Linked DNA regions of Homo sapiens: region 1 is linked to region 2. Evidence: fine-mapped expression QTL. A gene starts in region 2. The other region holds a variant in brackets. All regions are shown on one strand. Distances are between the middles of the regions. Region 1 has its middle 10 kb from the start of SNORD88C. Region 2 holds the start of KLK15 (kallikrein related peptidase 15).

Evidence for each region. PIP is the estimated chance that this variant, and not a neighbour inherited with it, causes the effect.
Region 1: its variant is fine-mapped to the expression of KLK15 in thyroid (GTEx, PIP 0.94).

Annotation. Positions count from the first base shown.
Region 1 is chr19:50,809,942-50,815,311 of GRCh38, reverse strand. It overlaps the pseudogene TMEM277P. Among named protein-coding and RNA genes, the nearest start is that of SNORD88C, 10 kb to the right of the region's middle. The variant T/C (reference allele first, on the strand shown) is at 2,744.
Region 2 is chr19:50,831,324-50,836,693 of GRCh38, reverse strand. It overlaps KLK15 (kallikrein related peptidase 15), which reads left to right and starts at 3,120. Exons shown (of 6, transcript NM_017509.4): 1 at 3,120-3,167; 2 at 5,171-5,244. The coding sequence starts at 5,202. The region is part of intron 2 of LOC105372441 (a long non-coding RNA gene); the gene reads right to left. RefSeq lists an enhancer at 261-310 and a silencer at 471-730.

The DNA of each region.
Region 1 (5,370 bases), 21 kb after region 2:
CCAGTCTTAAGCCAATCAGCCAACTGTACTCCACTGGCCATATAATTGGCTCGGGGTGCTCATGTGCCCCAAGCCACACAGGATTCTTGCAAGAACTGTTGATAACTTTTTTCTACCGGACTCGGCAGTTATTACCAACTCTGCCAAGTTGCTAACAACTCTGCCAGTTTTTTGTCTGTCTGCTCTCAGATCCATTTCCCGCCCTGTCCTGTTCTGCACTGCAAGGACCACATTTCCCAGCCTCCTTTGCTCACCATCTTATCACTGTGTTTGACTAATGGGAGGCACTGGCAGAAGACTGGTTCTGGGAGGAGAGGGCAAGCCAGGGTATTTATTAGCCTCTCTATCTCTGCATGTGGTGGGTCTTCCGTAGTAGTTGTATCTATTCTCTGATTCTAGCCACTTCTGAGCAATCCAACCATGAACCTATGCGTTCCAGAGGGCTGCAGTTTCTGGACTGTAGTAATACCACCTCCTCCCTTTGTCCTTCTGGCCAAGTAGCAGCATCCTGTAGTTCCTAACTCCTGGTTTGCCTCACTATTTCCTATTGGCTTCTCAGCTCCTCTGTTACTCACGAACAAATTCCCTGTATTTACTTCCTTCTGAAGAATCTGGAATGATTTATTTTCCTTACTGGATTCTGACTTGCCACTACACAGAGCCTTGAGAATGAAGCCAATCCCATAGCCAAAAAACAGTAATATCTGATACTATCACTTGGGCCCCTGGATCCACCCATGCCTGAAGGCATTCCTACCATTACCATTTTTCACTCAGGTGATCCCATAAAGGATCCCCTAGCTAGTTCAAGTTAGTTCACTCAAGCTAATACAACTAGTTCACTCAAGCTAGTTCAAGTTAGAGTTTGTGTCACTTGTGGCTGGGCACGATGGCTCACACCTGTAATCCCAGCACTTTGGGAGGCCGAGGCAGGTGGATCACCTGAGGTCAGGAGTTTGAGACCAGCCTGGCCAACATGGTGAAACTCCGTCTCTACTAAAAAGATAAAAGTTAGCCGGGCATGGCAGCGGGCGCCTGTAATCCCAGCTACTCCGGAGGCTGAGGCAGGAGAATCGCTCAAACCCGGGGGGTGAAGGTTGCAGTGAACCAAGATCACGCCACTGCACTCCAGCCTGGGTGAAAGAGTGAAACTCCATCTCAAATTTAAAAAAGTAAAAAATAAAAAAAATTTAAAAAAAAAGAGTTTGTGTCACTTGTGACCCAAAAACTCCTGACTAATTCAAGTCCCTTCCTTAGGACAGCAGGGAGCACAGAATTCAATGTTCCCTGCATACCAACTCCAAAATCACAATCAAAACCTAAAAATAAGTAATGAGAATTTAAAAAAACAGAACTGAATGTTCATCAAAAATCTGGAGGGAGAACCTCCCGAAGCCAAGAAGCAATTAATAAAGTCACAGAGACAAAGGTGAAGAAATTAAACTACCTAAAAATTCTAAGGCTGGGCACAGTGGCTCATGCCTGTAATCCCAGCTCTTTGGGAGGCTGGGGTGGGCAGATTGCTTGAGCTTACAAGTTCGAGACCAGCCTGGGAAACATGGCAAAACTCTACCTCTACCAAAAAATACAAAATTATAGCTAGGAATAGTAGCACTCCCCTGTAGTCCCAACTACGTGGGAGGCAGAGGTGAGAGGATGGCTTGAACCTGGGAGGCGGAGGTTGCAGTGAGCCGAGATCTCATGCCACTGCACTCCAGCCTGGGTGATAGAGCCAGACTTTGTCTCAGAAAAAAAAAAAAAAATTCTAGATTTCTATACCTTAAAAAATAATAATAAGGGCCAGGCGCAGTGGCTTATGCCTGTAATCCCAGAACTTTGGGAGGCTGAGGCAGGTGGATCACCTGAGGTTAAGAGTTCGAGACCCGCCTGACCAACATGGTGAAACCCCATCTGTGCTAAAATTACAAAAAAATTAGCCAGGCACGGTGGTGCCAATTACCTACAATTCCCGGGTCAGTATCCAAGACCCTCCACCAGCCAGGAACAGTCACGGGGTCAGTATCCAACAGCCTCCACCAGCCAGCAGCAATCGCCTGGTCAGTATCCAAGACCCCTTGCCAATTATTCACAATCACCAGGTCAGTATCCAAGACCCTACACCAGCTATCAGCAGTCAACAGATCAGTATCCCAGAAACACCAGCCATTACCTACAGCCACGATTTCAGTATGCGAGGTGCTTCACCAATTTTCCAAACTCGCTGCTTCAGTATCCAAGGCTCTCACCCCCTGACTAATCATCAATTATCCCCAGCAACAAAGATCATGACCAAAACTACCTGTCAACAACCGAGACTGCCCATTTAAGTGTTCCAACCCCCAACTTCCAAGCCTGGGCCATTGTCAATGTGCTCCCATCACTTACCTACGGCCCCGAGCCCAGTATCAAAAGCATTGAATCAGTTACCTGGGAGTCCCAGGAGAGTCTGAAGGCAAGTGTGCTCAGCTCTGAACTCAACCAAAGTCCTCTAGACAACATGCAAAACCTCTCATTGTGCAGCTCCATTGAGATCAATTCTGGCAGGTATGAGGCAGTGCCCAGGCCGGAGGCCAAGTTCTGAGCTAGACTTCTGGGGGAGGAGAAGCAGTGCTGTGACATCTCCTGCCTGCATGAGCACAGCCAGGATGCTTGGAAGGCCTGCCCTGCCCTCACCACTCCTGGGACCCATCGCTCCACTTTATCCCAGGGACCCCTCCACCTGTCACAGAATGGTTTCTTCCTT[T/C]CCTGCAATGATCTTCACAGGTATTTTATGAGTCTCACGGCCCCAGGGTGGTCCTCCCAGCCACAGGATGATCCTCACTGACTGAAATGATCCTCACTGACTGAGATGGTCCTTACTGCCCCAGGATGGTCCTCACAGCACTGGGATGGTCCTCATTGTCATAGGATAGTCCCTACTGCCCCAGGATAATCCTCACTGCCCTGGGATAGTCCTCACAGCTCTAGAATGGTCCTCACTGCTCCGGGATAGTCCTCACTGCCCTGGGATACTCCTCACTGCTCTCGAATGATTCTCACTGCCCTGGGATAGTACTCACTGGTCCAGGATGGTCCTCACTGCCCTGGAATAATCCTCACTGCCCCAGAATTATCCTCACCACCCTGGGATGGTCCTCATTGCCTGAGATGGCCCTTACTTCCATGGGATGGTCCTCCCTGCCTGGGATGGTCCTCACTCCCTGGGATGGTCCTCCCTGCCTGGGATGGTCCTCCCTGCCTGAGATGGTCCTCACTGCCTGGGACGGCCCTCCCTGCCTGGGACGGCCCTCCCTGCCTGAGATGGTCCTCCCTGCCTGGGATGGTCCTCCCTGCCTGGGATGGTCCTCCCTGCCTGAGATGATCCTCCCTGCCTGGGATGGTCCTCCCTGCCTGAGATGATCCTCCCTGCCTGGGATGATCCTCCCTGCCTGAGATGATCCTCCCTGCCTGAGATGGTCCTCCCTGCCTGAGATGGTCCTCCCTGCCTGGGATGGTCCTCCCTGCCTGAGATGGTCCTCACTGCCTGGGATGGTCGTCACTCCCTGGGATGGTCCTCACTGCCTGGGATGGTCCTCACTCCCTGGGATGGTCCTCACTGACTGGGATGGTCCTCACTCCCTGGGATGGTCCTCCCTGCCTGAGATGGTCCTCCCTGCCTGAGATGGTCCTCACTGCCTGGGATGGTCCTCACTGCCTGGGATGGTCTTCCCTGCCTGAGATGGTCCTCACTGCCTGGGATGATCCTCCCTGCCTGGGATGGTCCTCCCTGCCTGAGATGGTCCTCACTGCCTGGGATGGTCGTCACTCCCTGGGATAGTCCTCACTCTCTCGGATGGTCCTCAATGACTGGGACGGTCCTCACTGCCTCAGAGGGTTCTCACTGCCCTAGGATTGTCCTCACAGCCCTAGAGTGGTCCTCACTTCTGGGAATGCTCCTCACTGCCCACCCCACTTCTCACTGCCCAAGAAGCTGCCCTCACCAACCTAGAGGTAGATCCTCAGTGCTGGAAGTATCAGTCTCAATGTCTCTTCTCTGGAGCCCAATTTAAATTTTCCTAAAATGAGAATAAATAATTTGCAAGGGAGGAGCTTTGAGAATACTCCCACACCAACTGGTGACCCTTGTCCCCATACTCAGAGCCTGGGCCAATCATGGTGTTCCTGATTATCTTCCTTCCCCAGACTTGCTGGACCTTTCCTGGGCCTTCCTCCTCTTCTCCAGCATCACCAGCTTCTGCCTTTGCATAGCCCTAATAAGCACCATCCTCTTTACCGGCTCCAACCCGTCCATGCTGGATTTCTTCACCTTCATCACCAGCATCCTGACAGGCATGGCACTTCCCTCAGGAACCAAGGCGAGGAGTACCTCCTCCAGTGCCAATCATGAAACCCAATCCCATCCCCACCACACTCCAATCCCATCCCCATCCTGACCATCATCCGCAATCCCAACCCCATCTCCTTCCAAATCTCTAACCCATTCCCATAAAAAACATCAACCACCAGCCCAACCCTATCTCCAGCCCCAATACCAGCCTCCACTTCAAGTCCCATCTCCATCACCAACAAATCTCAAACTCATTCACATCCCTTTCCCTCATGCCCCTACTCCATCCCAATTCTACATTCTTTCCAATCACCAAACCATCCTCATTACCATCCGCAACCTCTTCAAACATCTCAACAACCAACTTTGCAGCATCCCAACCATCCTCAACATATGTTTCAAATGCAACCCAATTCTATCACCTGTGAACTTCAATGCCAAACTCAATCTAGTCCATTCCCCACTCCATCCTCTTACCCATATCCAATCCATTTTCATCCCCAACCATGACCTATCCTCATCCACAACCCACTCCCATCACAACTTACCCCCAACCACCACCCATCCCCACCACAACCCTTCCCCACCACAATTCACTCCAACCACAACCAACCCAAACCACAACCATCCCATCCACAACCCACCCCCAACCATAACCTATCCCCACAACAATCCACTTCCAACCATAACCCATCCCCATCCTCATCCCCAACCACAACCCATCCCCATCCCAACCCACCCCCAACCAGACCATCCCTGTTCCAACCCATCCTCAACCACAAACTACCCCATTTCAACCCATCCTTACCCCTAACCATAACCCACCCCCAACCACAACCCACCCCAACTACGACCCACCTTCAACCACAACCCATCCCAACTGCAACCTATTCCTGACACCACTCTCAACCTCGTCCTCTAACACTCAAACTTCAACCTCTACCCAATACCCAATCCTATTTCCCATTCTAACCTCATCCCAAATCCTGTCCCATCAGCAGCAGCAGCTCTGTGATTTTGTTCAAGCTACTTCATCTCTCCAA
Region 2 (5,370 bases):
AGAGAGAGGAGGACGTCTGAGCTGGAGCCAGGCCAAGGGGACAGAGAGGAGGGGACGGGGCAGAGAGAGGCAGGGGCCGAAGGGACAAGGCTGGGGACCGATGGGCTGTAGGGGATAAGGGGAGAGATGGGGCAAGGTCAGTGCCAAGGGCGTCTGGCCGAATAACTGGGTGGTCGGTGACGCTGCCCCTGAGATGAAGAACGTGGAAGAACAGGGAAGGAGGGTTTGGGGAAATAGAGCAATGAGTTGGGACTCGGTAAGTGAGAGGGGCCTAGGGACAGTGGTGCAGGGGGCGCCCAGGAGCAGGTGGCTGCCCAAGCCGGAGTTCAGGGTCAGATGGAGGAGACCTGCGTGGTTGGTGGATGAACCACGGGAGTTGATGAAAAACTCCCAGGGAACGTTCTCAGGAGGAGGAGCCGGGCAAAAGTGAGACTCAGGCCGCGGTGGGCGGGACCCAGGCCGCGGTGGAGGTGAAGGACGTCCGCGGACACGTCCAGGAGGACATCGATCGCGCGAGCCTGAGCCAGACACAGTGGGCGGGGACGGGGCGCCGACGTCACCGCGTGGGGGCGGGGCTGCGGGAGCCGCTGGCTGCGCGCCCTCCAGGGAGCCGAGCGCAGACCGGGTGCGCGCCTGGGTTCGGCGCGGCGGGAGCGCCCTCAGTGTCCCCGTCTGTATCAGGGGTGCTTCATCAGTACCTGCCTAGGCTGGTTAGGAGGAGGAGCACGTGCGATCGTGACGGGAAGCGCTCAGCACAGACCTGGCACCGAGGAAGTCCCAGGGGCTCGGCTCCTTTCCCTCGTCACCACCGCGCCCCAACAGAGGGAGGCGGCTGCAGGGGTGGCGGCGAAAGGGCCCACCGGGCGTTCCGGAGTCGGAACACTGATTCCTCTCCCGCGTGGCCTCTCGCTTCTGCAGGAACCTTGCTTGTGCTGCCTCCTGTCTGGGCCTCAGTTTCCTCCGTATTCAGCAGGAAGCCATAAGGTTATTAATATAAACACCTCACAGGGCTGCCGGGAGCCGGAGTGAGATCCTACAAAGAGAGCACTTGGCACGGAGGAGTGGCCTGCAGCCGCATTCCATAAACAGGGCTGCTCAGCTGAAGCGGTGGCCCAGGGTGAGGCCCGCAGACTTTGAGCATCAATTTGTGGGGAGGGAGGCAAAGGGACATAGGAGTTCTAGAATAGCTTCCAACCTGGGGATCTATTATGTCTGCCGGTCTGGGCTTGTAGAATGTCTGGAGACCCGACGTTCTAGAATGCATGAGGTTTCTGGGGACTCCAGAGTGCCCGATGTTCGAAGGTTCTAGAGTGTTTGGAGCTCTGTGGTTCTAGGCTATTCTAAAATCTTACCTTCCAGAGTGTCCTCCACTGCCAGAATGTCTTAGGGCCTGTGCTTTTAGAATCTGAAAGTCTGATATTCTAGAAATTCCAGGGGCCTGTAGTTCTAGAATGGCTGAATCCTTCCCATAAAGATGATGACTTTCCACACATGGGGAGAGACCACGCTTACAACAGGTCCCATCCTTCACTGGGTGACCTGAGTGAGGTCAGTCCCTCCTGTCTTGGGACCTCCTCATTAATTAAGCCAAAATAGACTCTAGATAATTGCTTGGGGCCCTCTGGGGTTCTGAGACATTGGAAGCCAGCCTCAAATACCCAAAGCCTTGGGTCATCTCAGTGATCATCTCCAGCCTCTGGGATGCAGAATCCAGATTTCAAGCTCTAGAACCCAGAAATAAGACTACAGGACCAGAATAGAGACCCTGGGTTCCCAGACTCTAAATTCAGACTCTAGAGTCAAGATTCTAGCAATCTCAGAATCGTGAAAGCCAGGTCCCTGTCTCTCAATTCAGCCTTTTAAAAATTTATTTACTTATTTATTTATTTATTTAGATTTTTCATAGAGATGAGGTATTGCTGTGTTGCCCAGGCTGGTCTCAAACCCTTCAGTTCCAGCAATCCTCCTACCTCAGCCTCCCAAAGGCATGAGTCACTGGGCCCAGCCACAGTCCAGGTTTTCAATGCAAAAACAGATTTGAAACTCCAGACTGTATGTTCCAAAGTCTACTCCTGAAAGCTCAGAGGCTAGATCCACCCTGTAGAATCCAGACCCCAAGCCTGGCATGGTGTCTCACGCCTGTAATCCCAGCACTTTAGGAGGCTGAGTCAGGTGGATCACTTGAGATGAGGAGTTCGACACCAGCCTGGCCAACATGGTGAAACCCTGTCTCTACTAAAAATATAAAAATTAGCTGGGCGTGGTGGTGGTCGCCTGTAATCCCAGCTACTCAGGAGGCTGAGGCAGGAGAATCTATTGAGCCCAGGAAGTGGAGGTTGCAGTGATCTGAGATCACGCTATTGCACTCCAGCCTGGGTGACAAGAGCGAAACTTCATCTCAGAAAAAAAAAAAAAAAGAATCCAGACCCCACAATTCAAAATCCCAAATCTACCATTTGTAGTCTAGGCCCCAGGCTTCTCATAGCAGGTGCAAAGGTTTCCAGCCTCGATTGCCAGATTCCAAACACCAGATTCCAGGCTCCTATTGTGGGTTCTAGATTCGAATGCCCCGGGATCCAGAATCAAGGTTCACGATCTGTCACTCAAAGGCCCGACTCCAGGATCCAGATTCCAGACCCCCAGCCCAAGAACTCAGACTTTGAAATCCATATTCCAGACTGCAGGTCATTAATCTCCAACTCAAGATCCTCAAATCCAGAATCCAAGACCCAGATCCAGAACCAGATCCGGATCCAGAACCCGGGATCCAGAACTCTGCCCCAAGCCCAAGAACAGGGACTTTAGGATCCAGTTTCCACACTCCAGACCCCAAATTCCAGACTCTGTCTTTTGATCTCCTCCTAATTTCTGTTTTTGTCCTCCTGTCCCCTCCCCCTTGAGGAACTGCTCCTGGTGGAGAATTCCTCTTTGTGGACTCAGACAACAGCTTCAACCTAATAAATGCTCATTAGGCCAAGTCTCCCACCCCACCAGCAACCAAGGCGTCTCTGCCTGTAAACCTGACTCTCAGCCACCTCCCACCCCACCCTACACCACCACACCCCCAGACCCAGCTGGGACTGGGAGCTTATAAATTCAGGCATCCTGGTACCTGCTCCCTTCTGGCACCCAAGCTGCCCTAGATGCTGCTGGAGGATCTGGAGGAGGTGAGAGCTTTGAGACAAGACTGAGGGAGGGGCAAAGGGGAGATTCACTGTGCCCTGGTTTCAAGGGGAAACGTTGACCACGCTTGGAGAACTGAGTGTCAAGGGCATGGGTAGATCCACGTGTCCTTTACCAATGCCCCAAATTGAACCTGAACCAAGAAAATGTCCTGGAATGGCCAGAAGGAGCTGCAGTGGTGGGGAGGGAGGGGGATGGAGTGGATCAGGAGGACGTCCCTGAAGTACTTGTATCAGAGCCAAGAACGTGGTCAGGAGTGATCACGGGTTCAAGTCAGTTCAGCACAACCTCCCGGAGGCCTCCTGTGTACCAGGCCCCAGGTGGGGCAGTGCTGAGGTCACAGAAAGAACCTGACCTGAGCCCCATCTTCAAGACCCCCAGATGGAGAAAAGAACAGGCCAGACCTCAGCAAGTATGGGGCATCTGCGCTGTAATGGAGACAGAATGGGTGCTGTGGGATTCAGGGGAGACACCTGTTAGGTGTTGGGGCCTCCCAGAAGAGGTGGGGGCAGAGTGTCAGAGGACAAAGATGAATTTGGAAGATATGGGGAAGAAGGATTTCAATTCACCCTCAAAGCTTCCTGAGGCCTCCCGTGGGTCGGGCCCTGCAGTACTGGAGACCCAGAGTGGAGTCAGACCAGCTCCTCGGGGAGCTGCCAGTCTCGTAGGGGAGGCAGACACCACTGAGGGTCAGGGGAGGTCAGAGAAGGCCTCAAGGAGGAAGCGGGGCTGGAAGGGAATGGCGTTGGATATGCGGTGGGAGGAATAGCCTAAGCATGAAATGGCAGGAGGGAAAATGGCAGCACTGGCTGCGTCTAGGACAAGGTCATGGGAGACCCAGGGAGAGGGGCTGGAAGGGAAGAAGCCACTTTTGTCCTTGAAAGTGAGGCTGGAGCCAGGCAACTCATGCCTGTAATCCCAGCACTTTGGGAGGCTGAGGCGGGTGGATCACTAGAGGTCAGGAGTTCAAGACCAGCCTGGCCAACATGGTGAAACTCCGTCTCTACTAAAATTACAAAAATTAGCTGGGCGTGGTGGCACACACCTGTAATCCCAATTGCTTGGGAGGCTGAGGCAGGAGAATCTCTTGAACCCAGAAGGCAGAGGTTACAGTGAGCGGAGATCACGCCACTCCACTCCAACCTGGGCTACAGAGCCAGACTCCGTCTCAAAAAAAAAAAAAAAAAAGAAAAAAAAAGAAAGAAAGTGAATTTGAAGAGCTGGACTTTATCCTGGTGGTGCCAAGGATCCATGGAGGGTGGTGAGCAGGGGAGGGGCACAGCCAGCTCCAGATGTAGAAAGACCCTTTGGGGTCATGGCTGGAGGGCAAGCTGGTGGAGGGGACTGGACTGGAGGGGGACCCAAAAGGCCAGATAAGAGGGTTGAGATAGACCAGGCGCGGTGGCTCATGCCTGTAATCCCAGCACTTTGGGAGGCCGAGGTGGGTGGATCATGAAGTCAAGAGATTGAGGCCATCCTGGCTAACACGGTGAAACCCTGTCTCTACTTAAAAAAAAAAAATTTCCAAAAAATTAGCCGGGCACGGTGGTGGGCGCCTGTAGTCCCAGCTACTCGGGAGGCTGAGGCGGGAGAATGGTGTGAACCTGGGAGGTGGAGCTTGCAGTGAGCCGACATTGTGCCACTGCACTCCAGCCTGGGTGACAGAGTGAGACTCCGTCTCAAAAAAAAAAAAAAGTTGGGACAGGGGTCCTTGGTGATGATGGAGAGAGATCCAGGGGCTGGTAGCATGGTGCTGGAGGCTGACAGGTGGAGGAGGTGGGGCAGGGTCTGTCCGAGTGCCTAGAGGAAGAGTAAACCTTCCAGAGATGGGGGACCCAGAAGGAAGCGCAGAGTGGGGTTGGGGGAAGGGGATACCGGTGGTCAGAAGAAATTTATTAACAGTGGATGGGATAAGTCTGTGTCTGGAGGGATCCTGGTGGAGGCAGAAGGGTCCTGCCTCACCTGGATTCTCTCACTCCCTCCCCAGACTGCAGCCGAACCCTGGTCCCTCCTCCACAATGTGGCTTCTCCTCACTCTCTCCTTCCTGCTGGCATCCACAGGTGAGGTGGCCCCAGGAGGGGGCCAGGTCTGTGGGAGCAGGTGCCCCCTTCCCAAGCATGTCTGGGCCCAGTGATCTGCCAGCCCCTACCTCACCCAGAGACCACTAAAGATCCTTCCTTCACCCT